Linked DNA regions of Homo sapiens: all the other regions are linked to region 3. The links come from fine-mapping of genetic effects on gene expression. A gene starts in region 3. Each other region holds a variant in brackets. All regions are shown on one strand. Distances are between the middles of the regions. Region 1 has its middle 15 kb from the start of IRGC. Region 2 overlaps PLAUR (plasminogen activator, urokinase receptor). Region 3 holds the start of PLAUR (plasminogen activator, urokinase receptor). Region 4 overlaps ZNF285 (zinc finger protein 285). Region 5 overlaps SMG9 (SMG9 nonsense mediated mRNA decay factor).

Region 1 (5,128 bases), 31 kb after region 3:
TTACTCTGTGTAGCTCAAGGCAAGTGACTTTATCTCTTTGAGCCTCTGTTTTCTCTTCTGGTAATTGGGGATGGTAGACACACACCTTGAAGGGCGTTGTGAGGACAAAGTGAACTCATGAGGGAGGTGACAGAGTAAAGGGCATAAGAACAGGACTCTAGGGCCAGGCTGCCTGGGTTCAAATGCTGAATCCACCACCTGAGCTGGGTGACCTTGACCAGGTGACTTTGCCTCTCTGTGCCTCAATTTCTCCATCTGTAAAAGGGGATAACTTGGTATGCAACAAGTTCTTTAAAAAACAGGGGAGGGCCGGACGTGGTGGCTCACACCTGTAATCCCAGCACTTTGGGAGGCCAAGGCGGGCGGATCACGAGGTCAGGAGATCGAGACCATCCTGGCTAACATGGTGAAACCCCATCTCTACTAAAAATACAAAAAATTGGCCGGGCGTGGTGGCAGGTGCCTGTAGCCCCAGCTACTCAGGAGGCTGAGGAAGGAGAATGGCGTGAACCCGGGAGGCGGAGCTTGCAGTGAGCCGAGATGGCGCCACTGCACTCCAGCCTGGGCGACAAAGCGAGATCCCGTCTCAGAAAAAAAAAATAAATAAAATTAAAAAACTGAAAAAAATAAAAGATCTTTGGACTCAAACAGACCTGGGTTTGTGGTGTGGATTCACAATTTATCTGCAGTGTAGTCTTGGACAAGTTTCATAACCTCGTCTCAAAAAAAAAAAAAGAAAAAACAACAACAAAACGGGAATAACAACAGTCGCTAAGTCCTAAGACTGTTGTGAGAATTGAATAAGATAATCCACTAAACTATATCAGTGCTTTCTGAAAGAAATGTAATGTAAGACACGTGTGTAATTTAAAATTTTCTGGGCCAGGTGTGGTAGCTCACACCTGTAATCCCAGCTCTCTAGGAGGCCAGGATCGCTTGAGCCTGGAAGTTTGAGACCAGCCTGGGCAACAGAGGCAGACCCTATCTCTACAAAAAATTTTCAAAATAATTAGCTGGGCCTGGTGCTACGGCCTGCAGTCGCAGCTACTCAGGAGGCTGGGGTGGGAGGATCACCAGAGCCCAGGAGGTCGAGGCTGCAGTGAGCTGTGATTGTGCCACTGCACTCCAGCCTGGGTGACAGAGCGAGACTCTGTCTCATTTTTTTAAAAAAAGTTTTTAAAAAAGGAAACAAACATTGCACACGAGTGAAAACACACCTGTAACATACGTGTAAGGTAGAAAGAGTGACAACGAGAGAGAGACAGCCGTGACCAGCTCCCAGCTCAAAGAAAAGAACATTCCTGATGAGCTTTCACGAAGGACATGGACTCGAGGGGCTCGCGGGCCCTGTGCGTGTGCAAGGCGCGCGCGTGTGCGCTTGGGTGCGCGCGGGGGTGGCCTTCTGCCTGCGCGCGCCCCCACGTCCCCTCCTTGCACCCTGTCTCCGTCTCGGCAGGCGGCCGGAACGTGAACGTACGCGGCTGCGGCTCCCGAGACCTGTGCAGCGCCCTGGACTGGACCCACGGGCTCTCTGTGCTCCCAAGACACTGGCTGTCGAGCCACTGCAGCCCCCACCGCCGCGCCGTCCTAGAGTCCCACTGCCGCTCGGGCGCCGCGCCCGGCCTCCGCCTCTCCCTCCCGGTTCTGGTGGTAGTCCTGGCAACCGCGACGCTGTGCTAAGGAATCCCGCCTGGACCACCCCGCCGCCCGGGAGGCCCCCTCCACCTGCTTGTTCGGCACGTCGCTAGATGGTGCCCTGGCTCCCCTCTGCTGGGGCAATGCGGAGACCTGGAAGCCTCTGGTGAGAAACTCAGGAAGCAGGGATGAGCTTCCTCCCTCAGACTAGCGTTTCCCAAAGCCAGACCTTCTGCTCCAGACTCAGGGCTTACTCAAGGCTAAGTCCTCTTTCCTCACACCAGGGTCCCAAAGGCCATGCCTCCATCAGCCTAGGGTGTGTCTTCCCCGCTCAGACTAAGGCCACTCACCTGCTGCTGAGATCAGGCGTCTGCTCAACTAAGTTGGGGCGGGGCGCTATACCTCCCCCCTCAGATTAGCACCTTCCCCAAGGCCAAACCTCCTCCCTCAGAAGAGGGCTGTTCTTCTTCCTCAAGTTACTAAGCCTCCTTCTTCAAACGAGGGGATACCCAATATCCGGCTGCTCCCAGACACCAGGGATGTGTCTCTTCTCCCACACATTGACAAGCAACTTCTCTTTTGTTCTCCCTGTTTGGGGTCTAGCAAAATCCTGGGCAGCCAAGGCGGGGCTTGAGGATCCGATACACCCTCTTCCAAGGTTTTCAGAGCAGCCTCCTCCACCCCCACCATGGGCCAAGACGGGGCAGGGGGCATGGGTGGGGTGAGGAGCCCCTCTTCTGTGTGGGCCCAATCTCCCAGCTGTAACCAGATCTGAATGAATCACATCTCACAATGCCAAGTGGTTTGAGTTTCCTTTTTCTGAAGTTTTAGCCTCAAAGAGGGCCCTGATGTGGTCCTCTCTCCTCTGAGGCCAGGGGAGGTTAAGTTACTTCAACTGGTGAACCTGGAGGGGACAAACCGACAACAGTGTCTGGCCAGGGTGGGCATAAGACCAAATGCTGCATCTGGAACTGAACTCAGAGGATTGAGCGGAGAAGTGAAACTGGGTTGCTCACCACAGGCAGAATGCCAGGAACCATTTGCTTTCTGCTGAAAGTGGCTGAGCGCAGTGGTTCACGCCTGTAATCCCAGTGCCTGGGGGCTATGACAGTGGGAGGGAGGGCTACCTAAGAAATCACTCCAGGCCATGCACCAGACAGATTAGGCGGCGTGGCTCTAGGGGGCTTGAAAGAGACCGCCCCCGCCAGGCGCAGTGGCTCCCGCCTGTAATCCCAGCACTTTGGGAGGCCGAGGCCGGCAGATTACTTGAGGTCAGGAGTTTGAGACCAGCCTGGCCAATAGGACGAAACCCGTCTCTACTAAAAATACAAAAACTTAGCCGGGCATGGTGGCGAGTGCCTGTGTTCCCAGTCACTCAGGAAGCTGAGGCAGGAGAATCACTTGAACCTGGGAGGCGGA[G/A]GTTGCAGTGAGCTGAGATTGCGTCACTGCACTCCAGCCTGGGCAACAAAGCGAGACTCCGTCTCAAAAACAAAAACTGAAAGTAACAGAAAGCCCAACCGAAAGAATAGAAACAATTCATTTAACATTCATCTAACAAATCTTTATCAGTCACAAGCTATGTATTCTTTTGTAAATGAGACACTGGCGATACAGACAAAATTCTGTGCTCTTATGGAAGTGGTATTTTAGTGGAGGAGACACATAATAAATAAATATCACATATCGTACATCACATATCAGTGAGTACTAGGAAGGAAACAGTGCGGGGAAGGAGAATGGGGAACGCTGCCAAAGAGATATGATCTTATACATGGTGAGTAAGAGCCTCAGTAAGGTGACGTAAGTAAAGACCTAATTGAGGAAGTAAAGACCTACGTGGGGCAAGGGAGAAGGCCATGCAGTTGTCTGAGGTGGGGGAGGAGGACATTCCAGGCAGAGGGAACTGGAAAGGCAAAGGCTCCAAGGCAGATGCAGTAAGAAACAGTTAATGTGGGTCAGACGCAGTGGTTCATGCCTGTAATCACAGTGTGATTTTGGGAGGCTGAGGTAGGAGGATTGCTTGAGGCCAGGAGTTCAAGACCAGCCTGGGCAATATAGCAAGATCCCATCTCTACAAAACATTGAAAAGTTAGCCTAGCATGGTGGTGGACTACAGGTATAGCTGTAGTCCCAGCTGGTCAGGAGATCAAGACCATCCTGGCTAACATGGTGAAACCCCGTCTCTACTAAAAATACAAAAAAAAAAAAATATTAGCCAGGCGTGGTGGTGGGCACCTGTAGTCCCAGCTACTCGGGAGGCTGAGGCAGGAGAATGGCGTGAACCTGGGAGGTGGAGCTTGCAGTGAGCCAAGATCGCGCCACTGCACTCCAGCCTGGGCGACAAAGTGAGACTCCGTCTCAGGAAAAAAAAAAAAATTAAAATAAAAAAATTGAAAAAAAATAAAAGATCTTTAGACTCAAACAGACCTGGGTTTGTGGTGTGGATTCACAATTTATCTGCAGTGTAGTCTTGGACAAGTTTCATAACATCTCTGAGCCTTGTGTTCCCATATTGTAAGGTGTTATTGTAAGGTACATTAAGCACAAGGCTTGGCCCACCCTAAGCTTTCAACCAATTGAAATAGTCATGTCTTCAGGTTGTTAATCATGAGGACTGTGCTATTATTTATCCACATTGTATAGAGGAAGAAACTGAGGCTGAAGGAGGCTAAGAGACTGCTAGTATGAAGAACATTGGGACTGAACACACATCTGTCTGACTCTAGAAGATAAAATTTCCCCCCCTTAAACATTAAGAAAATGTCCAAATATACACAAAAGTAGAGAAAATAGTATAATATCTATGACAGACTGATACCCCAATCTATGATGGGACCAAAATGTGACTGAGCCCAGAGCCCATAGCAGGCGCCCAGGAGATGTTTGCAGCTGGAAGCAGTCATTAAATGACCCTTCAGTATCAATCTCTCAGTGTCCAAAATTATGCACATTTTGCCAAATTATCTCTCTCTTCCTTCCCCCTTCCCTGCCTCCTCCTTTCCTACACCTTCCCCTCTTCCTCCCTCCTCACCTCTCTCTTTTGCTTTTTTTTTTTTGAGATGGAGTCTCTTGCTCTGTTGCCCATGCTGGAGTGCGGTGGCGTGATCTCGGCTCCCTGCAACCTCCGCCACCCAGGTTCCAGCGATTCTCCTGCCTCAGCCTCCAGAGTAGCTGGGATTACAGGCACGCATTACCGTGCCCAGCTGATTTTTGTATTTTTAGTAGAGACGGGGTTTCACCTTGTTGGCTAGGCCTGTCTCGAATTCCTGACCTCAAGTGACCCGCCCGCCTTGGCCTCCCAAAGTGCTGGGATTACAACGTGAGCCACTGCTCCTGGCCTTTCCTTTGCTTTTACCCTCCCTCCTTTGCTCTTTCTCTCTCCCTCCTTCCTTTCTCCCTTCTTTCCTCCTCTCTCTCTTTCTCCCTCCTCTCCTTCATACTTCTTTCTTCCTTTCTCCCTTCTTGCCTTCCTATATTCCCTCCCTCTTCCCTT
Region 2 (5,128 bases), 21 kb before region 3:
CAAAACTTCCACCACATTCTACTGGTCAAAGCAGTCACAGAGTCACTCATATTCAAGAGGCAGAAGTACAGACCTCACTTCTTTAAGCCACTACAGTGACAGGTGGTGATATGTCATTAGAGAAAGCCCTAAACAAGAACCTTGTCCCTCACCTGCCCCCAAATACCATGGAAGATGTCTTTTTTTTTTTTTTTTTTTTTTTGGGGATAGTCTCACTGTGTCATGCAGTGGTGTGATCTTGGCTCACTACAACCTCCTCCTCCTGGGTTCAAGCGATTCTCCTGCCTCAGCCTTCCGAGTAGCTGGAGTTACAGGCACCCACCACCTTACCCGGTTAATTTTTGTAATTTTAGTAGAGACGGGGTTTTGCCAAATTGGCCAGGCTGGTCTCAAACTCCTGCCTCAAGTGATCTGCCCACCTCGGCCTCCCAAAGTGCTGGGATTACAGGCGTGAACCACCACAGCCAGCCGAAGATATCTTATTTTTTCTTCATTAGCCACAAGATTTGATGGGGAATGTAATTTTTGTCTCCATGGGTTGCCTTAGCAAATGATGAGAAGAACATGAATTTTTCAATATTGTGCTCCTAGAGTGCCATTGAAATGGTAGTTCTGTCTCTTTTTCTGACAGTCCTGAGGCATCCCGGGAAATAGAGCCCAGCCTTTATCCCCGGTCCCCAGCACATCAGGGGAAGTGCACTCCTGTCCTTATTCCTCACTGCAGTGCATGCAGGGAGTTCTGGCCATCAGGTTATCTTCTATCCGTCTCCTTTCCCAAAGCATGCTGGGAAATGTGGGGATGTCTCCTTAGAACAACAAAATAGTTGCAACCTTTGAAGTTTAGGAGAAGACTAGAAGGTTAGTGTTCAGTGTGTGATCTGGAAGCTTGCATTTGTAAGAATTAAAGAAAGAGGAGGCCAGGCACGGTGGCTCATGCCTGTAATCCTAGCACTTTGGGAGGCCAAGGTGGGCAGATCACCTGAGGTTGGGAGTTTGAGACCAGCCTGAACAACATGGAGAAACCCTGTCTCTACTAAAAATACAAAATTAGCCGGGTGTGGTGGTGCATGCCTGTAATCCCAGCTACTTGGGAGGCTGAGGCAGGAGAATCCCTTGAACTAGGAGGTGGAGGTTGTGGTGAGCTGAGATTGTGTCATTGCACTCCAGCCTGGGCAACAAGAGTGAAACTCCATCTCAAAAAAAGAAAAGAAAAGAAAAGAAAAAGGAAAAGGAAAGAAACATGAAATGTGGCTTGACGGTGAAGGACAGGTTTATTTTAGAGAAAACCAACCTGAGGGGGGCTTTTGGCTGAGTTAGGTTAGAGAGCCCTTTTTTTTTTTTTTTTTTACAGACTAAGGATATTTAAGAGTTTTGGAAGGGGGTGCTTATCTAGGTTCGGAATGTTTTCATGTGAGGAAAAGTTTATTGTGGGGTTGGAAAGTCTCTGGTCGGAAGGGAGGCTATCTGGGGGTTGGCATGTTTCTGGTCAGAGAGGGGTTTATCTTAGGGTTGGAATGTTTCTGGTTATGCTGATGGTAGCCATTAGGCTGATGTTTTGGGGCTGGATTTAGCTGATTTTTTTTTGAGACAGAGTCTTGCTCTGTCACCCAGGCTGGAGTGCAGTGGTGCAATCTCGGCTCACTGCAAGCTCCACCTCCCGGATTGACGCCATTCTCCTGCCTCAGCCTCCCGAATAGCTGGGACTACAGGCACCCGCCACCACGTCCGGATTTAGCCGATTTTTAATCAAGAGGAACTAAGAATGGTGGTGTTTGTTCAAGATGGCAGTGCTCCTGCTCTGTCAGCATTTGGAGTCCAGAAATAGATGTGGAGGCAGCCCCCAGGAGGACTTCCAACCTAGGCAGGGGCCTCAAACATGACCCCTGATTCCAGGAGCCTGTGAAAAGGTGTCCCCCACCATTTATCCTCCCAAAGATAGACACTACAAAGAAGGGCATACCTGGCCTTGTCCACTGGTACAAAATCTTTATGTAAGTATAAAATAAATAATATGAATATTAATTAATAACAACAACACAACAGCGGCAACAATATTAATAATAACAAGAGCTCTCCCATTGGCCCACGGCCTTCCTCCAGCTTTTCTCTTCTGCTTCACACAACTTTGTGAGATAGCTGTTTTCATAGCTGGGAAAACTGAGGCCCAGAGAGGTCGGCACACTGGCCTGAGGTCACACAGCAAGTCTGTAGGGCTGGGAGCCGAGGGAAGGGCAAAGGGGTCCCCCGGATCCAGCCAGGGCAGAGAGGGGGATTTCAGGTTTAGGTCCAGAGGAGAGTGCCTCCCCACAGTCTGGCAGTCATTAGCAGGGTGATGGTG[A/G]GGCTGAGATGGGCAGGGCCAGGCTGAGGAGCAGCCCCACTGCGGTACTGGACATCCAGGTCTGGGTGGTTACAGCCACTTTTAGTACAGCAGGAGACATCAATGTGGTTCATGCTGAAGGCGTCACCCAGGTGGGCATGTTGGCACATTGAGGCGGTTGCACAGCCTCTTACCATATAGCTTTGGTTTTTCGGTTCTGAGGAAAGAGAAGACGGAGTGAGACTTCCAGCTCCTGGGCCCAGGACTGGAATTCTCCAGTAGGTGACCTGCCACCTTGCAGTGGGTGCCACCTTCACTACCACCTAGAGAAAGCAGCAGTTCTCAGGGCCAGGTGTGGTGGCTCATGCCTGTAATCTCAACACCTTGGGAAGCCAAGGAGAGAGGATAGCTTGAGCCCAGGAGTTCCAGACCAGCCTGGACAACATAGCAAAACTCTGTTTCTACAAACATAAAAAAGAAAAAAACAGCTGTAGTCCCAGCTACTTGGGAGGCTGAGATGAGAGGATCACTTGAGCTCAGGAGATGGAGGCTGTGGTGAGTTATGATCACGCCACTGCACTCCAGCCTGGGTAACAGAGTGAGACCCTGTTTCAAAAAACAAATAAAAAGAAAGAAAGGAAGGAAGGGAGGGAGGGAGGGAGGGAAGAAGGAAGGGAGGAAGGGAAGAAGGGAAAGAAAAGAAAGAAAGAGAGAGAGAGGGAGGAAGGAAGGAAGGAGAAGGGAAAGAAGGAAGGAAGGGAGGAAGGAAGGAAGAAAGAAAGAAAGAAAGGGAAAGAGAGACAGAGAAAGAAAAGGAAAGAAAAAAAAAGAAAGAAAGGAAGCGAGCAGCGGTTCTTAAAGTGTGGCTCAGGGACCCCAGAGACCCTTTCAGGAGATCTGTGATTTCACATGGCTTTTTCACTCTCATAAGTGTACAATGGGCTTTTCCAAAAACTCCAGGACATGTGATATTGCAAGAGACTGAAAGCAGAAGCTTCCATGAGGACCCAGCTGTCTTCTATTAAGCTGGACATTAAAGAGATGTGCAACACAGCAAAATAATGCCAGTTTTCTCATTACGCTTTTTTTTTGTTTTTTTTTTTGAGATGGAGTCTCACTCTGTCACCCAGGCTGGAGTGCAGTGGCACGATCTCGGCTCACTGCAACCTCTGCCTCCCGGGTTCAAGCAATTCTTCTGCCTCAGCCTCCCAAGTAGCTGGGACTACAGGCGCGACCACCATGCCCAGCTAATTTTTGTATTTCTAGTAGAGACGGGGTTTCACCATATTGGCCAGGCTGGTCTCGAACTCCTGACCTTGTGATCTGCCCGCCTTGGCCTCCCAAAGTGCTGGTATTACAGGCGTGAGCCACCGCGCCTGGCTGGTTTTTTTTTTGTTGTTTCTTTGTTTGTTTTTTTAAGACAGGGTCTCGCTCTGTTGCCCAGGCCGCAGTGCAGTGGTGCAATCTCCGTTCACTGCAACCTCCACCTCCCAGGCTCAAGTGACCCTCCCACCTCAGCCTCCCAAGCAGCTGGGACTACAGGCATGCACCACCATGCCCAGCTAACTTTTGTATTTTCTGTAGAGACAGGATCTTGCTATGTTGCCCAGGCTGGTCTCAAATCCCTAGGCTTAAGTGACCCGCCCACCTTGGCCTCCCAAAGTATTGGGATTATAGGCATGAGCCACCATGCCTGGCTATCATTACATTTTTTCTTTGGAAACTATACTTATTTTTCATTAAAATGTTATTTATCTTAATGTGTAATGAGTTTTTATTGTTATAAGATGAATTCATAAATAAATCTTTAAAGATTTCTCAGTTTTGGCTGGGCACGGTGGCTCACATCTGTAATCCCAGCACTTTGGGAGGCCGAGGCAGGCAGATCATGAGGTCAGGAGATCGAGACCATCCTGGCCAACATGGTGAAACCCCGTCTCTACTAAAATTACAAAAATAAGCTGGGCATGGTGGCTCATGCCTGTAATCCCAGCTATGCAGGAAGCTGAGGCAGGAGGATTGCTTGAACCCAGGAGGGGGAGGTTGCAGTGAGCTGAGACCATGCCACTGCACTCTAGCCTGGCGACAGAGCAAGACTCCATTTCAAAAAAAAAAAAAAAAGATTTCTCAGTTTTAATTTTAATTTAATTTTATTTTATTTTATTTTTTGGGACGGAGTTTCACTCTTGTTGCCCAGGCTGGAGTGCAATGGCACAATCTTGGCTCACCGCAACCTCTGCCTCCCAGGTTCAAGTGATTCTCCTGCCTCAGCCTCCCGAGTAGCTGGGATTATAGGCATGTGCCACCATGCCCGACTAATTTGTATTTTTAGTAGAGATGGGGTTTCACCATGTTGGTCAGGCTGGTCTTGAACTCCCGACCTCAGGTGATCTACCCACCTCGGCCTCCCAAAGTGCTAGGATTACAGGCGTGAGCCACCACTCCTGGTTCTCAGTTTTAATTTTAATGTGGCATTTATCTATAGAAATCACTGATATAAACAATAAAGAGTTTTTTTTTTTTTTTGAGACAAAGTCTCCCTCTGTCATCCAGGCTGGAGTGCAGTGGGGTGATCCCCACTCACTGCAACCTCCTCCTCCTGGGTTCAAGTGATTCTCGTGCCTCAGCCCCCTGAGTAGCTGGGGTTATAGGTGCACGCCACCACACCCAGCTAATTTTTGTAATTTTTTGTAGAGACAGGGTTTCACCATGGTGGCCAGGCTTGCTCTCATACTCCTGACCTCAAGTGGTTCTCCTCCTCACCCTCCCAAGGTGTTGCAATTACAGGCGTGAGCCACCACACCTGGCCAA
Region 3 (5,128 bases):
AATCACTCGCGTTCCATGCTGCGCTGGAGGGGTGTGTGGGTTGGGGGGAAGCTCACCTTCCCACAAGCGCACGATCGTGGTCCTGCAGAGGTCCTGTCCCAGGGCGCACTCTTCCACACGGCAATCCCCGTTGGTCTTACACTGCATGCACCGCAGGCCCCAAGAGGCTGGGGGAAGGAGGGAGAGGAGAGGAGAGGTTAACTACGCTTAGCTCCAAGACCCCCGCTCACCCCTGCATGTCCCAATACCAACACCAAGTCTCCAGGCCCCGTCCATTCAGATTCGTGTCCATGTTCTGCTGGGTTCCGGCCGGCGGTACTTCCAGTCTGTCCGTTGTCCACGTTCTACCTCCACCCCACTAACTGAACGTTCTATCCCTGCCCACAAGTCCTTTCCCAAAGTCCTGCCTTGGCCCGTTTTTCCTTTCATTCTGTCCTCGTGAGGCGTATATCCTGACAGTCGTATCCCCGCCCTCTCTATCAGTACGTTCTATTCCTGCTCCTATTAGGTCTTTCTCACCGCACCGGCCCTCGGTCGATTACGCCTCTCCAGTTCTGCTGGGGACGTTCTAGCCTTGCCCCACCCGCGTCGATCTTTATGTTATACCGTCACTCCCAGTGCCCTAATGGAACTATCCCTCCACTCACTCCCCCTGGTTCTACCCGGCTCCAGAGCCTCTCCCGGCCCACTAATTTATTCCCAAATTCTAGGCCCGGCCCCATCAGCCCTCCGGAGTTTCTATTGTTAGATACTCTAGTTTCCCGCGAAGTTCTGTCTCCGCCCTCCAGCTCTCCAACTAGGTTTTGGCCCCGCTCCAGACTCATCGTCGAGGTTCTAGCCCCGCCCTTTAGCTCTTCCTGACCTTATCTTCCCGCCCCCTAGCTCCTCCCCGATGCCATAACCCCGCCCCTAGCTCCTCCTCGAGGCTTTAGTCCCTCCCTCTAGCTCCTCCTTGAGATTCTAACTTCGCCCTTTAGCTCTCCCCGCCCCTAGTTTTCCCCTGAGGTCATAACTCCGCCCCAGTCCCTTCTTGAGGTTTCAGCCCCACCCTGTAGCTCCTCCCCGAGGTCGTAACCCCCGCCCCTTGGCCCCTTGAGGTCCTAGCCCAGCCCCGTAGCTCCTCCCCAAGCTTATAACCCCGCCCCTAGCCCCTCCTTGAGGTTCCAGCCCCGCCCTCTAGCTCCTCCCCGAGGTTATAATCCTGCCCCTCAAGAGTCTAGTCCCACCTTCTAGCTCCTCCCGAGGTTATAACTCCGCCCTCTGGTTACGCCTCGAGGTTATAACCCCGCCCTCTGGCTCCGCCTCGAGGTTCTAGCCCCGCTCCTAGCTCTTCCTCGGTCTGTAACCTCTCCCGTAGCTCTTCCTTGAGGTTCCAGCCCCGCCCTCTGGCTCCTCCCCGACACTCTCTCCCCGCCCCAGGCTCCGCCCCGAGATTGCAGCCCAGTCCCTAGGCCCGGTCCCCGACCTCCGGGCCTTCCCGGACATCCCTTTCCAGCTGCGCGTTCGGAGTATCCCGGAGCTGTTACTCATTCCCGGCCTCCCGCGGTCTCGAGCGCTTTCCGGGTTATTCATCGCGGCCCCAACACCCTGTGGCCACCCGCCCTGACTCAGTTCCTTCTCGAATTCCTCGACCCAGAGCCCCCCACATTTTCCGGGGAAGTAAGTGAGAGTCGCCTCAGTGAGAGGGAAAGGTCCTGAGGGACAGTCCCGGGTCTCCAGCACTGGCTCTGCGCCGCTCAGTCAGCCTCCCTTTGGGCCTTTTGTAAAAGGGGGTCCTGTCCCCCCGTTTCTCAGAGGGGGAGACCCAGCAGCGTGGAGAGCGCTGGGGGGCGCTGCAGGGTCAGATCCTGCGTATTCAAGCACTGGCTGTGTGATTTTAGGCCAGTTATCTAACCTCTCTGTGCCCTAGTTTCCTCTGCGAAACGAAATTAATAAAGTCCCATCGCCTAGTTTGAAATTGCAAGGAAGAGGCTTCGAAGAACTCCATTTAAAAAAAGAACACTTGGGCCGGGCGCGGTGGCTCACGCCTGTAATCCCAGCAGTTTGGGAGGCCGAGGCAGGTGGATCATCTGAGGTCAGGAGATTGAGACCATCCTGGCTAACAGAGTGAAACCCGGTCTCCACTAAAAATACAGAAATTAGCCGGGCGCGATGGCAGGCGCCTGTAATCCCAGCTACCCAGGAGGCTGAGGCAGGAGAATCGCTTGAACCCGGGCGGCAGAGGTTGCAGTGAGCCGAGATCGCGCCACTGCACTCCAGCCTGGGCGACAGAGTGAGACTCTGTCAAAAAAAAAAAAAAAAAAAAAAAAGCACTCACTAAATTATGTAAAGCTAAATGCCTTTGCTCCACTAATATTTCCTTAGCTACTGAGTGCCAGGTACTGCGCCGCGTGGCGTTGCACAAAGCACGAGAATTACTATTATTTGATTAGGGAGGATGCTGAGGACTGAACCGCATTCCTCCAACTCATCCTCTGACAACCCCCAACCCCCTCAATTAGACCCTGTTCCAGGCGCAGGCGTTCGGGACCCAGCCCCTACCTGGGACGCAGGTGTGGAGCAGCAGCAGCAGCGGCAGCAGCGGCGGGTGACCCATGTCGCGAGGGCAGCTCCTGTGCGCGGGGTCCCTGCACGTCTTCTCTCCTTCTGGCCTCAGGAAGGAGGCAGTTTTGTGGCCCCAGGGACTCCTCCCAGACGTTTTGCGAAAGAGCGAGTCAGCCCCAGATGCGTGGGCGCCTCCCCCTCCTCCCGTACGAACCTCCTCCGCCACAAACTTCCCTTCCCGGGGCGCGGCCGGCTGGTGGTGAAGGGGCTGGCTCGGCCCTGACTCATGGAGTTGTGATCACAGCTCTGTCCCCAGATTGCCTGGGTGCAAATCCCAGTTCTCTCTCTTCCTAACGTGGGACCCGGGGCAATCGCTCTCCACTGCTGTAAAATGAGGATAAAAACTTTGACGGTAAATATGAATGTGGCTGATTATTTGGCTAACAGGATTTTTGTTAGTTTTGTCAGGAGGGATACTGGTATTTTGGAAAATGTCCTTATCTAGAGATGCATCCTGAAATATGCATCTCTTAAACACTTAAAACACTTAACCCTTGCTTTGCTTCCCGCTGTGCCCCCAGCTCCTGGACCAGTGCCCAGCACGAAGTAGGTCCTTGGTAAATGTTAAAGGAATGTGTTGAGCCCTCCATTTTGGCCAGCAGCTATTCCAGGCATTGCACCTACATTAAAACACTTAATGGTGAAACCCCGTCTCTACTAAAAATACAAAAATTAGCCGGGCGTAGTGGCGTGTGTGTGTTACTTAGGAGGCTGAGGCAGGAGAATCGCTTGAACCCGGGAGGCGGAGGTTGGGTTGCAGTGAGCCGAGATCGTGCCACTGCACTCCAGCCTGGCAACAGAACAAGACTCCTTCTCACAGAAAAAAAAAAAAAAAAAAAAAAAGACACTTCAGCCAAAAAAGTAGATATCACTGTTACGACAATGGCTGTATGCTTAGGTGGGATTCTGGTTTTTGTTTGTTTGTTTGTTTTTGCAGATGCTTACTAGAGTATTTAGTGGTGAATGTTATTGATGTCTGCATTTTTTGTTGTTGTTGTTTTGGGGATTTTTGTTTTGTTTTTTCTTTTTCTTTTGTTTTCATTTTGATGTCTGTATTTATTTTATAATATTTTAGAAGAGGTCAGATGAGGTGGCTCATGCCTGTAACACCAATGCTTTGGGAAGCCAAGGCAGGAGGATCACTTGGGGCCAGGAGTTCAAGATCAGCTTGGGAAACATAAAGAGCCCTCATCTTTCCAAAAGAAATTAAAAATAAAATAAAATTAGCTGGGTGCAGTGGCCCGTACTTGTAGTCCTAGGTAGTTGGGAGGCTAAGGTGGGAGGACCGCTTGAACCTGGGAACTGGAAGCTGCAGTGAGCTATGATTGCACCACTGCACTCCAACCTGGGCAACAGAGCGAGACCCTGTCTCAAAAAAATAATAAATAAATAAATACTTGAGTAGAAAATAAAGGCAAAATAGCCAAATGGTTGTATCAATTATATAAAGGTAATCAGTATATAAGGGCATATTATGCCATTCTGTCTCCTTTTCTGTGGGTTTGAAAAGGCTTATAATAAGTTTTTTCTTTCTTTTTATTATTTATTTATTTATTTATTGAGACGAAGTCTCACTCTGTCACCCAGGCTAGAGTGCAGTGGTGCAATCTCGGCCACTGCAATCTCCGCCTCCTGGGTTCATGCAATTCTCCTGCCTCAGCCTCCTGAGTAACTGGGATTACAGGGGCACGCCAGCACACCCGGCTAATTTTTGTATTTTTAGTAGAGATGGGGTTTCACCATGTTGGTCAGGGTGGTCTCGAACTCCTGACCTCAGGTGATCCACCTGCCTTGTCCTTCCAAAGTGCTGGGATTACAGGCATGAGCCACTGCACCTGGCCAAGTTTTTTTTTTTTTTAAGTAAAATAAAATACTAAAGATAAAATTGTCTCCCCGTCTTAGGATGCATCTAACTAAACAGAGCAATTTAATGTAGGTGCAATGCCTGGAATAGCTGCTGGCCGAAATGGAGGGCTCAACACATTCCTTTAACATCTACCAAGGACCTACTTTGTGCTGGGCACTGGTCCAGGAGCTAGGGGCACAGCAGGACGCAAAGCAAAGTTCCCACCTTTTGTTGTGTTGACAGTGGGGAGCAGATATGTGTTATCTAATCTTTCACTGTCTGAGAGGGATAAGCAAACTGGAGAAAACAAAGCAGGCTGAAGGAAGTATCTGGGTGCAAATGAGGTGTGAGCTGTTTTAGGTGGGTGATCCAGGAGGGGTTCCCTGAGCAAGTGGCATTCAAGCAGAGGCTGAATGCAGTGAGGGAAGAAGTAGGGCAGATGGGCAGGGAACCTTTCCAAGGAGCAGGAACAACCAGTGCAAAGGCCTTGAGGTGGAAGCCTGATGAGATTCTAGGAACAGAAGAGATGTCAGTGTGGCTGGAACAGATTAGGAGAGGAAGAGAGTCGTAGGGGATGAGTAAGTGGTAGCTACTTCTACTGCTGTAATAATGATTATACTATGTGATTTGTTGTCGTTGTTGTTGTTGTTTTTGAGACAGAGTCTCACTTTGTCTCCC
Region 4 (5,128 bases), 710 kb after region 3:
TCAGAGATTTCAGTAATAAACATAAAAGATAGGAGACTCCAGGAATGGATATACCTAGTGTAGTATAAATGTGACCTTTAAGATCAGTAAATAAAAAAGGGACTCATCAATAAATGTTGAAAGCCTTGACTATCCAATTGGAAAAAATTAAAATTAGATTTGTGCCTGACACCATTTAAAACATAGTCTTCATGTTTTGAAAATAATTAGTGCCTGGGAGTATGGGAAAGTTTTCTTTTAAAAAATCATTATACAAAAATTTCATAAACACATTGATATTTTAACCACATAAATTTTTTTAGCTAAGTTGCCCAGTCTAGAGTGCAGTGGCTATTCACAGTCACGATTGTAGCATCCAATAGCCTCAAACTCCTGCCCTCAAGTGATCCTTCTGCCTCCCCAGTAACTGGGACTACAGGTATGTGACAGGTATGTGCCACCACACACAGCCCAACCACATAAAGATTTTAAGTGAACAATAAAGTACCTCATTCTTTATGTTAATAGACAAGGACAGGCAATTCTTCATAAAGATAACATACACTTAGCCTATGACAGCAATTCCACTCCTAGGTATTTACCCAAGAGAAATCAAAGCATATGTCTGCAAAAAGGCTAATACAAGAATATTCTTAGTAGCTTTATCCAAAATTTCCAAAACCTGGAAACAAATGTTCACCAACATAAGAATGAGCAAACTGTGGTAATTTCCTGATTACTCTGAACATAAAAAGAAGACTGATAAGCATAATAATATAAATGAACTTAAAAACATTATGTTAAATGGTGGCAGCTTCTATAGAAAACAGAATGGCAGATCCTGAAAAAATTGAAAATACAATTACCATATGATCCAGCAATTCCACTTCTGGGTATGTGTCCAAAAGAATTGAAAGCAAGGTCTTGAAGAGATATTTGTACTCCTATGTTCATAACAGCATTATTCACAATAGCCAAAAAGTGGAAGAAACCCAAGTGTACAAAGGAAGAAAATTCTGACACATTCGACAACACAAATAAACCTTAAGGACATTATGGTAAGTTAAATAAGCCAGTCACAAAAAGACAAATACTGGGCTGGTCATGGTGGCTCACGCCTGTAATCCCGGCACTCTGGGGGGTCGAGGCGGGCGGATCACAAGGTCAGGAGATCGAGACCATCCTGGCTAACATGGTGAAACCCTGTCTCTACTAAAAATACAAAAAATTAGCCGGGCGTGGCGGCATGCGCCTGTAGTCCCAGCTACTCGGGAGGCTGAAGCAGGAGGATGGCGTAAACCCTGGAGGCAGAGCTTGCAGTGAGCCGAGATCTCACCACTGCACTCCAGCCTGGGTGACAGAGAGAGACTCTGTCTCAAAAAAAAAAAAAAAAGAAAAAGAAAAAGAAAAAGAAAAAAAAAAGGACAAATAGTGTATGATTCCATTTACGTGACTCAGAGAAGTCAAATGCATAGAGACACAAAGTATAGTGGCTGCCAGTGGCTGGGAGGAGGGGAAAATTGAGGGTTGCTGTTGAATGGGATAGAGTTGAATGGGATAGAGTTTTAGTTTTGCAAGATAAAATGAGTTTTGGAGATTGGTTTTACAACAATGTAAATGTACTTAACACTACTGAGCTATATACTTAAAAATGGTTAAGATGGTAAATTTCATGTTATGTATATTTCACCAGAAAAAAATTGTAAAAAGCCGAAAGCATTCCAGGTAGCTCTAGTTTGCATCTAAGATTAAGAGACATTTATTTCCATCAAAACCAAGGATCTGAAAGGAACCAATTTACAAGCTCACAAGTTAGCCTGACAGTCTCACAGATGCTGGCACAAGACAAGAGACTCCTGGCTCTGAGACAAAGGACTTTATTAGTCACAACCACAGCAGTAGCCAGAGTGTCATCCTTTGCAATGGTTTTTACCACTCTAATCCCATAGAGTGACGTGAAAGGCCAGGTGCTGCTTGCATACCTAGCGGGCTGCGTTGTAGGAATAGAACTCTAAGCTTAGGAAACCTGAATCTTCTATGATAGGCAGTGGGAACAAAACCACTGCCCTTCACCCCAGAGGGAGACACTGTCTTCACTGGAGTGGTCCATAAACAAATTTGCTGCTCCAGAGGAAGACACTATATTTTTGTTCCCTAACGCGTACGCACCTTTGAAAAGACAGTGGGGAACAAAGGTGACCAGTGTCTCTACTCAAAGACATGCAGAAAAAGAGAAGTAGATACTTAAGTAACCATAGTGTCTGCAGAAAAATAAAAGAAAAAAAATAAGAGAAGCAGATACAGAGAATGAGTGGGGAATGAGGAATAATAACTAATGTTACATTCTACTTCAAAGCCAGTTGACTACAGAAGAAAAAGGCCAATTCTGGGGTTACATCTCCTTTGTGAGTGGTATGCTAATAAATGTTTAATAAATGGCTCTCCAGAAAGAAACATACGTACATTATATAAGTTTACTATAAATTTTACTAATATAGAATGTTTTCAGAACACAATTTATAAACAATAATAAAATATGCAATACTCTATTTATTATAAATTACAAATTTAGAAAACCATGTTGAATGAAAAAAAAGCCAAACGCAAGAGTATATTACAGTATGATTTCATTTATATAAAGTTCAAGAATAGGCAAAACCAACATATGGTGATAGAAAGCAAAACAGTGATTATATCCTTTTTTGGAAAGAAATGAAGGGAAAGGGGCACAAGGGAAATTTTGGGGTAAAGAAAATGTTTAACAT[G/A]TTGAATGGGCATTATTTACAAGGATATGTACATTTGTTAAAACTTAAATGTAGTTAAAGTCTGCACTTTATGTAAATTATACCTGAAAAAAAAGACAAGACAGATCAGACATCTTCGGTAGCTGTTATTATGCTTCTATGGGCAGTCTAGTGGAGGCATAGCCACTGGGCCCAGTCTGCCAGCTGCATGCTATTTGTATTTATTGCCTGTAGTTGTATGAAGAGCTAGTGTTAAGTAGTGTTAAGTAGTAGTTATCAGTATAACTGATAACCCAGCATCAGTTATTAAAATGACTATTATTTCTCCAACATATTTCAAGGCTAATAAACTAACTCACTGTATACATGTGGATCTGTTTTTGGGCTCCCAATTCTTTTCCATTGATCTATTTTTTCTCTCCTGAGCGAATACCACACTGTATTAATTATAGAAAATTTATAATAAATGTTGATCTCTGGTAATGTAAGTCCACCAGTGTTGCTCTTCATCAAATTTTATCATCACACATAAGGGACTTTTTTTTTTTTTTTTTTTTTTTTGAGACAGAGTCTTGCCCTGTCGCCTGGGCTGGAGTGCAGTGGTGCGATCTTGGCTCATTGCAACCTCCACCTCCTGTGCTCAAGCGATTCTCCTGCCTCAGCCTCCTGAGTAGCTGGGATTACAGGTGCCTGCCACTATGCCCAGCTAATTTTGTGTATTTTTAGTAGAGACGGGGTTTCACTATGTTGGCCAGGCTGGTCTCAAACTCCTGATCTTGTGATTCAGCCACCTTGGCCTCCCAAAGTGCTGGGATTAGGACTAAGTTTTATAGGGAAAACATGTAAGCTAAGGGTCTGGAAGAGAAGGCACAGGACCACAATTTCTCATACCACTTGAAGAAGCACCAGGGCCTGGGTGAAGCAGGAAATAGACCACACCTCACCGCTATGTTTTTATCCTTCTTAAAGAGCAATTGTGAAGGCATCCATGTTGGTGAGGGAACAAATTGACTATGCAGGTAATCTGGACTACTTAACTAAAGCAGACAATCTGGCTTTAGTTGTCAGAGCTTCACAGAAGTTGCATGAGAAAGCCAGGTTCTAACACCTCCCATCAGGAAGAGAAAGCCGCTGGGAAGTTGAGTTCATGTAAAGCCCTTCCCACTGAAGAATGTGGGAGTCTGAGGCCCCAGATAGCTCCTCACCTAGGCATCCCAAAGGGAACTCCCAGAATTACCTTTGGACAATTCTGGTCATTGCACACAATTGTTATTGTGAATGAAACATTTTGGCTACATTTTATAAAAGACTCTTACATAGTAATGCTATGAATTTTCACATGCCAATTTCGTGTGAAACCAATTTGTTGACCCGATAATTTTAAAACAGCCTTCAATTGGTCAAATTTTACAGGTGGATTTGAATTTTATAAGTAAATAACATTATTCTCTAGCATAAAAATAGTATCTTCCTTTTCCTTCCAATGATTATGTCTCAACATTTTTTATTTTGTCTTAATCTCACCCCATGAATCTGGGCCAGTGTTGTGACTTGCTTTAATCATTAAAATGTGGTGAAAGTATCATTGAGCCTGTTCCCTGATGAGGCCTTAAGAGATCACAGCTTTTGCCCTTGAAACCCTGGCACTATGGGACCAACCCTCGATTGGTCTTCTGGAGGGTGAGAGACCATGATGACAGAGAGAACTTCGTTGTCTCATCTATGACCATCATAAAACAGCCAGGCCCAGATGAACCATCAGCTGACTGCAGATGCATGTACAAAGCCCAGTTAAGATAATCTAGCATGTCCCACACCAGAACTGCCCAGCTAAGCCCAGTTGAACTTGCCAGCTCACACATCATGAGCTAAATAAATATGTATTTAGAGCTACTCAGTTCTTGTGTGTGTTATGAGGCAGAAGCTGATAAGCATATTTAGGATAAATTATACATGAGCGAGTCTGTTACGCTTTTATCAAATCATTGGATTTGACATGCTCATATTTATTTAGGATCTCTGCATCTTCATTTGTAAATGAGATTGGCTCCCACTGATTGGGAGCTAGACTAATTTCTGCTTTTTCCATGCTACTTTGCTACAAGAGGAAAAGCAAACAATTTTGTGAAGTAGGGAGACATTCCTGTTAGCATCATATATTTAAAAAGCTTAATGTGATATGCAAGCGCTGCTCCCGGCCAAACTAGAGGATTGCCTGGGACACCTCCACCAACACTGAGGGCTGATTCTGTCATGAAGGAATGTTGCACCCATTCTAAACCCCAAAAGCTTCCTAGGATAATGTGTATCCCGGATTTTTTCTCTAACTTAATGTTTGCAAGTAGGAGTACTGGAGTATGTGGTGGACATGGACAATAACATGTGGACATTTTTATAGGTCTAGA
Region 5 (5,000 bases), 76 kb after region 3:
AATCCCAGCACTTTGAGAGGCCAAAGCGGGAGGATTGCTTGAGCCCAAGAGTTTGAGACCAGCCTGGGCAACAGAGGAAGACGCCATCTCTACCAAAAAAGTTAAAAACCAGCTGGTGTGGTGGCATGCCCCTGTAGTCCCAGCTACTTGGGAGGCTGAAGTGGGAAGATCACTTGAGCCTGGGAGGTAGAGGATGCAGTGGGCTATGATCGTGCCATTGCACTTGAGCCTGGGTGAAAGAACAGGACACTGTCTCAAAAATAAATGAATAAATAAAATTCTGCATATACTGTTAAGGGATTAATGGACTCCTGACGCTCATCCATGGAGGCCAGGGTAGTATCACCTGCTTTACAAAAAAACAGATCCCTGTATTTTTAGGTAACTTCAACATGTCTCTGTTCTTCACCACCCCAGTGGCTACTATCCATTCTCATTCCCCATTTTGATTCTCCCTTAATGAGATGTGTATCTCCCCCATTCCCAAATTCCTACATTTTTCCCTTTCCTTCTCTGCCCCCAGTTTCGGGACCTGTTTCTCAAGTTCTCCCCTCCCCAAAACCTGCTCCTGTGCCCTTATGCTTTATCTTCATAATCACATTCCATCCTTACTCAAGAATGTTGTTCAGGCCAGAGAATCCTCATGTCTGATCCTCCCCAGCCTGGAGAAGCAGAGCCATTTTCCCAAGGTGACACAGTAGGACTGAGGCTGGTACAGAAACCACTCTCTGTCTCCAGATCTCTTTCCCCACTCTATTTCTCAGATCGTATCAGCTACCATTCTGTGATACTTGCTCTATGCCAGGTGCTCATTAACTTTTGCCTTCTTGATCTTATTTTATTCTCCAAAAATCTACCTGGACAGGGGATACGGGAAATGAAGTGACCTGCCCAAGGTCAACCAGTTATGTTGCAGGGCTGAGCCTGAGGTGGGCCCAAATCCAAAACCTTAACAACTACATCATCCCACTTCTTGTCTAGGACCTGTACCATTTCCTGAGGCCAGGCAGGAAGGGAGGGAGGGAGGGAGGAACAGGATTGGATGCCTTGGAGCTACACAGATTTAGTCCAGCCCATTATCATCTTCATCTCATGAAGACACTGAGGTCTACAGAAGAAAAGCAACTTTCCAAAGTCCTTTGGTAACACCACTTGAAACACCCAAGCCCACCTTGCCCCTGCTCCCAGTGGGTGCCCACCTCCCTCCTGCACCCTATCTGATAGCCCCTCACCTCTGGTCCTCCTCTGGAGTGTTGGCTGACAACAATGACATGACCATGGACTTGCCTGTCCCCTGGAGGCCCAGGACACCAACCACCAACACATCAGTCTGATCCAACAGGTACTGTGGGAAAATACATAAATGACTCTGACAAGTCTGTCAGCTGCTGGAGCTGGAATGAGGGGGGGACTCCAGAGACCCTTGTGGCTCCCCCACCTGCCTTATCATATATGAAGAGAAACTCCTATAGTCCCAACCCCTTCAACTAGGCATAGGGCCTCTGTTCCGTGTCATGGTAGGATTATGTGAAATGTTTTAGACACAAACAACAGTGTCTGTGAGAACTCTGAAGTAGAAAAGAGCCTAGCATGGTCAAGAAGCTAAAAGGAAGTCAGTGTGGCTGAACACAGCGGGAAAAAGGGAAGTCTGATCTTGGAGAAGTGAAAGTGAGAGTCACAGGAACAGAAGGGCAGGTTGGAGAAGATAGGACTCGGCGACTGAGGGCTACTGGCACAGATTCCTGGCAAACCTGGGAAAGCACATGAAAGGGAGTGGTGTGCAAACAGGAGCCACCCAGGCTTTCGTCTGTGTGTGTGTTTTTTTGTTTTTTTTTACATTCATATGCTGTTGTCTGTGGGATTTAAGAGCCCCTCTGGAAATTAACTGAGACCAACTCTGGGCCACCAGCTCTGCTGACTTTCACCACCAGGGGGTGTAAGAGACACTCCTCAAGGAAAACAGCTACGTTCTGAACTGTGGCTGCTGCTCCTTAGAATTACCTTAAAATTTTGTTTTGTTTTGTTTTTTAAAAGCGAATCCTATAGGCCAGGTGTTGTGGCCCACGCCTGTAATCCCAGCACTTTAGGAGGCCAAGGTGGGAGGATCGCTTGAGGCCAGGAGTTCAAGACCAGCCTGGCCAACATGGTGAAACTCCGTCTCTACCAAAAATACAAAACCCGGCTGGGTGCAGTGGCTCACACCTTTAATCCCAGCACTTTGGGAGGCCGAGGCAGGCGGATCACCTGAGGTCGGGAGTTACAGACCAGCCTGACCAACATGGAGAAACCCCATCTCTACTAAAAATACAAAATTAGTTGGGTGTGGTGGTACATGCCTGTAATCCCAGCTACTCGGAAGGCTGAGGCAGGAGAATTGCTTGAACCCGGGAGGCGGGGGTTGCGGTGAGCCGAGATCGTGCCATTGCACTCCAGCCTGGGCAACAGGAGCGAAATTCCATCACAAAAAAACAAAAAAAAAAACAACTATCTGCGCGTGATGTCGCACACTTGTGGTCCCAGCTACCTGGGAAGCTGAGGCTGGAGAACTGCTTGAACCCGGGAGGTGGAGGTTGCAGTGAGCCGAGATGGTGCCAC[T/C]GCACTCCAGCCTAGGCAACAGAGCGAGACCGTCTCCTAAATAAATAAAGCAAATCCTGGGCCCAATCAGGATTTAACGTGCTTTAACACATTAAAGCAGAATATCTATGGATGCCCTGTTCAATCAGTAGGCATTGATCATACATGGCTATTTAAATTAGTAAGCTTAAACAACATTAAAAATTCTGTTTGGTTGTACTAGCCACATTTCAAGTGCTCTAAAGCCACATCTGGGGATAGCGGCTACCATACTGGACGGATAGTTCAAATATATATGATCTTCATCACTGCAGAAAGTTTTCCTTAATAGCGCTGAAGGGTAGGGTTTGGTTTTTTGTTGTTGTTCTGTTTTTTGTTTTTTTAAAGCTCCCCAGTTAATTCCAATGTGAGAGTGGACACAGAAGTGGCAGGGGCAAGGCAATAAATGGACTTGAGGCTGTGCTAATAAGTCCAGGCTGCTGGGTAGGAGAGGTGACACCTCTGGGACAATCTGAGCAGGGGTGTGACAGGTCTAGGGGAGAAAAAGCAGAAGAAGGGACACAACATCTGGGAGACTGGTGTTATGTATGATGATCTAGGAATGTGAGGTCTGAACTAGAGCAGGGGGTGGTGGGATGGATGGGGGTCACTTTGGGGGAGTGACATTCAAAACAGTTGACACTGAGACAGCGTGGGCTTCTTGTTCTTTTTTTTTTTTTTTTTACTGAGACAGGGTCTCACTCTGTTGTTGAGGTTGGAGTGCAATGTCATGATCACAGCTCTCTGCAGCCTTGACCTCCTGGAGTCAAGTGATCCTCTTACCTCAGCCTCCTGAGTGGCCTGGATGCCTCCTGCCACCATGCCTGGCTAATTTTTAAATTTTTGGTAGAAATGGAGTATTCCTATGTTGCCCAGGCTGGTCTTGAACTCCTGGGCTTAGGTGATTCTCCTACCTTGGCCTCCCAAAGTGCTGGGATTACAGGCATGAGCCACCAGCAAGGGTTTCAACCAAATAAGAAGGGTACTGGAGCAGGGTCCAAAAGACTCCCCTGCTGTGGATGGCACGGGAGATCCCAGGGGTCCTGGGGTGGTAGTGAGAGTACTTCTTTACCAATCGGTACCAAAGGAGTTCTGTATTTTACCAACTAGCAAGCACAGCCGAGCTAGTTGAAATTCCGCTCTGGTTAGGTGAGAATGTTCTGATACCACCCCCTCTCACTGCTGTAAGTTGCCTCAAAACCCTCCAGTCTGGTGTTGCCTACAGAGAGGTGGAAGATCAGAGGATGCAGGATGTGCGGAAGCTCAGGCAGGGCAGGACCCCTCGGTACCTCGATGGCACTGTCACACCAATTCATCTGGTCATCCACCAACTTGATGCTGTGCTTCATGCGCTCTGGGGGCAGTAGTTTGGCCTGACCCACGACAGCTGGAGATTGGAGAAAGCAGGAGACAGAGGATGCAGTGAGGATCTGTGAGGAGACGCCAGTTCCCAACCTGGTACTGCCCAGCCCCAACTCACGGTCCATGGCTGCTGGTGCGGCAGTGCCCATGCCCCGGTTCTGGATCTGGTACACAGGCTGTGTGGGTCTCTGCCCCTCCTTCTCCCCCTTGGGTGGCGCAGGGGCTGCAGGGGGTGGTGGGGCGGTGCCCTCAGGGGTAGAGGCACCTGTCACGGCCACAGGCCCCTTCCCCTCCTCCCGTGGCTTCATGAGAACGATGGGCTTCTCCAGAGGGGCTGGAGCAGGCGGGGCAGCAGGGGCTGTTGGAGGTGGTGGCTGTTTTGACTACGGAGGTAAAAAAAATCCCATCAATGGGGGCAATCCCTTCCCTAACGGCTCCCCCTCCTCCCTCCTTCTCTGCTCACCCGCTCTGCTGGAGGTTTTGAGAGGATGATGGGGGTTTTCTGCATGACGGAAGTGCTTGTCTCTTCGCTGGCATCCTGTGGTGAGGGAGGGCAGTTACTCATGAATGGCTCTCCTGGACATTCCAGATCTTTATGTACCATGAACTATTCTAAATGCCGAAATATATTAACTACCTTGATCCTACCAACAGCCCTGTGAGATAGATACTATTATTACCCCCACTTTACAGATGAAGAAAATGAAGCCTAGAAAGGTTAAGCAGATTGCCCAAAGTCACAAAGCCCAGGCAGCCTGGCTGCAGAACCAAATCCTCAAGCATTCTGCTCAGCTGCCTCTGCGAGGCAACAAGCCCAGGAGGAAAGGAACTAGGAGCTAGACAGGTCTGGGTGCAAACCTGATCCCGCCTCGTGTTGGCTGTGTGAACTTGAATAAGGAACCACCCTCGCCACCTTCACTTATGCCTCATTTTCCCATCTGTGAGTGGGTATGGGAATTCCTTCCTCACAGACTATGATGAGGATGAAAGGAGAGAGAACTCATCAAGTGTCTAGCATGGCACCT

What was found.
Region 1: its variant is fine-mapped to the expression of PLAUR in whole blood (TOPMed, PIP above 0.99).
Region 2: its variant is fine-mapped to the expression of PLAUR in monocytes (Fairfax 2014, PIP 0.95).
Region 4: its variant is fine-mapped to the expression of PLAUR in blood mononuclear cells (TOPMed, PIP 0.98).
Region 5: its variant is fine-mapped to the expression of PLAUR in blood mononuclear cells (TOPMed, PIP 0.99).

The regions. Positions count from the first base shown.
Region 1 is chr19:43,698,092-43,703,219 of GRCh38, forward strand. It overlaps the pseudogene LOC105372412. Among named protein-coding and RNA genes, the nearest start is that of IRGC, 15 kb to the right of the region's middle. RefSeq lists enhancers at 2,353-2,853, 3,212-3,261, 3,272-3,321, 3,412-3,471. The variant G/A (reference allele first, on the strand shown) is at 3,055.
Region 2 is chr19:43,646,610-43,651,737 of GRCh38, forward strand. It overlaps PLAUR (plasminogen activator, urokinase receptor), which reads right to left. Exons shown (of 7, transcript NM_002659.4): 7 at 1,970-2,534. The coding sequence ends at 2,281. Among named protein-coding and RNA genes, the nearest start is that of CADM4, 9.3 kb to the left of the region's middle. The variant A/G (reference allele first, on the strand shown) is at 2,339.
Region 3 is chr19:43,667,525-43,672,652 of GRCh38, forward strand. It overlaps PLAUR (plasminogen activator, urokinase receptor), which reads right to left and starts at 2,645. Exons shown (of 7, transcript NM_002659.4): 1 at 2,542-2,645; 2 at 57-167. The coding sequence starts at 2,596. It overlaps LOC124904724 (a long non-coding RNA gene), which reads left to right and starts at 1,240. Exons shown (of 3, transcript XR_007067264.1): 1 at 1,240-1,659; 2 at 2,502-2,956. RefSeq lists silencers at 1,144-1,373, 1,414-1,493 and an enhancer at 2,414-2,713.
Region 4 is chr19:44,379,033-44,384,160 of GRCh38, forward strand. ZNF285 (zinc finger protein 285) reads right to left here. Exons shown (of 4, transcript NM_152354.6): 4 at 3,266-5,128. Among named protein-coding and RNA genes, the nearest start is that of ZNF285, 20 kb to the right of the region's middle. The variant G/A (reference allele first, on the strand shown) is at 2,745.
Region 5 is chr19:43,743,540-43,748,539 of GRCh38, forward strand. It overlaps SMG9 (SMG9 nonsense mediated mRNA decay factor), which reads right to left. Exons shown (of 14, transcript NM_019108.4): 3 at 4,439-4,513; 4 at 4,094-4,358; 5 at 3,903-4,000; 6 at 1,233-1,345. Among named protein-coding and RNA genes, the nearest start is that of SMG9, 8.9 kb to the right of the region's middle. RefSeq lists a silencer at 4,245-4,374. The variant T/C (reference allele first, on the strand shown) is at 2,596.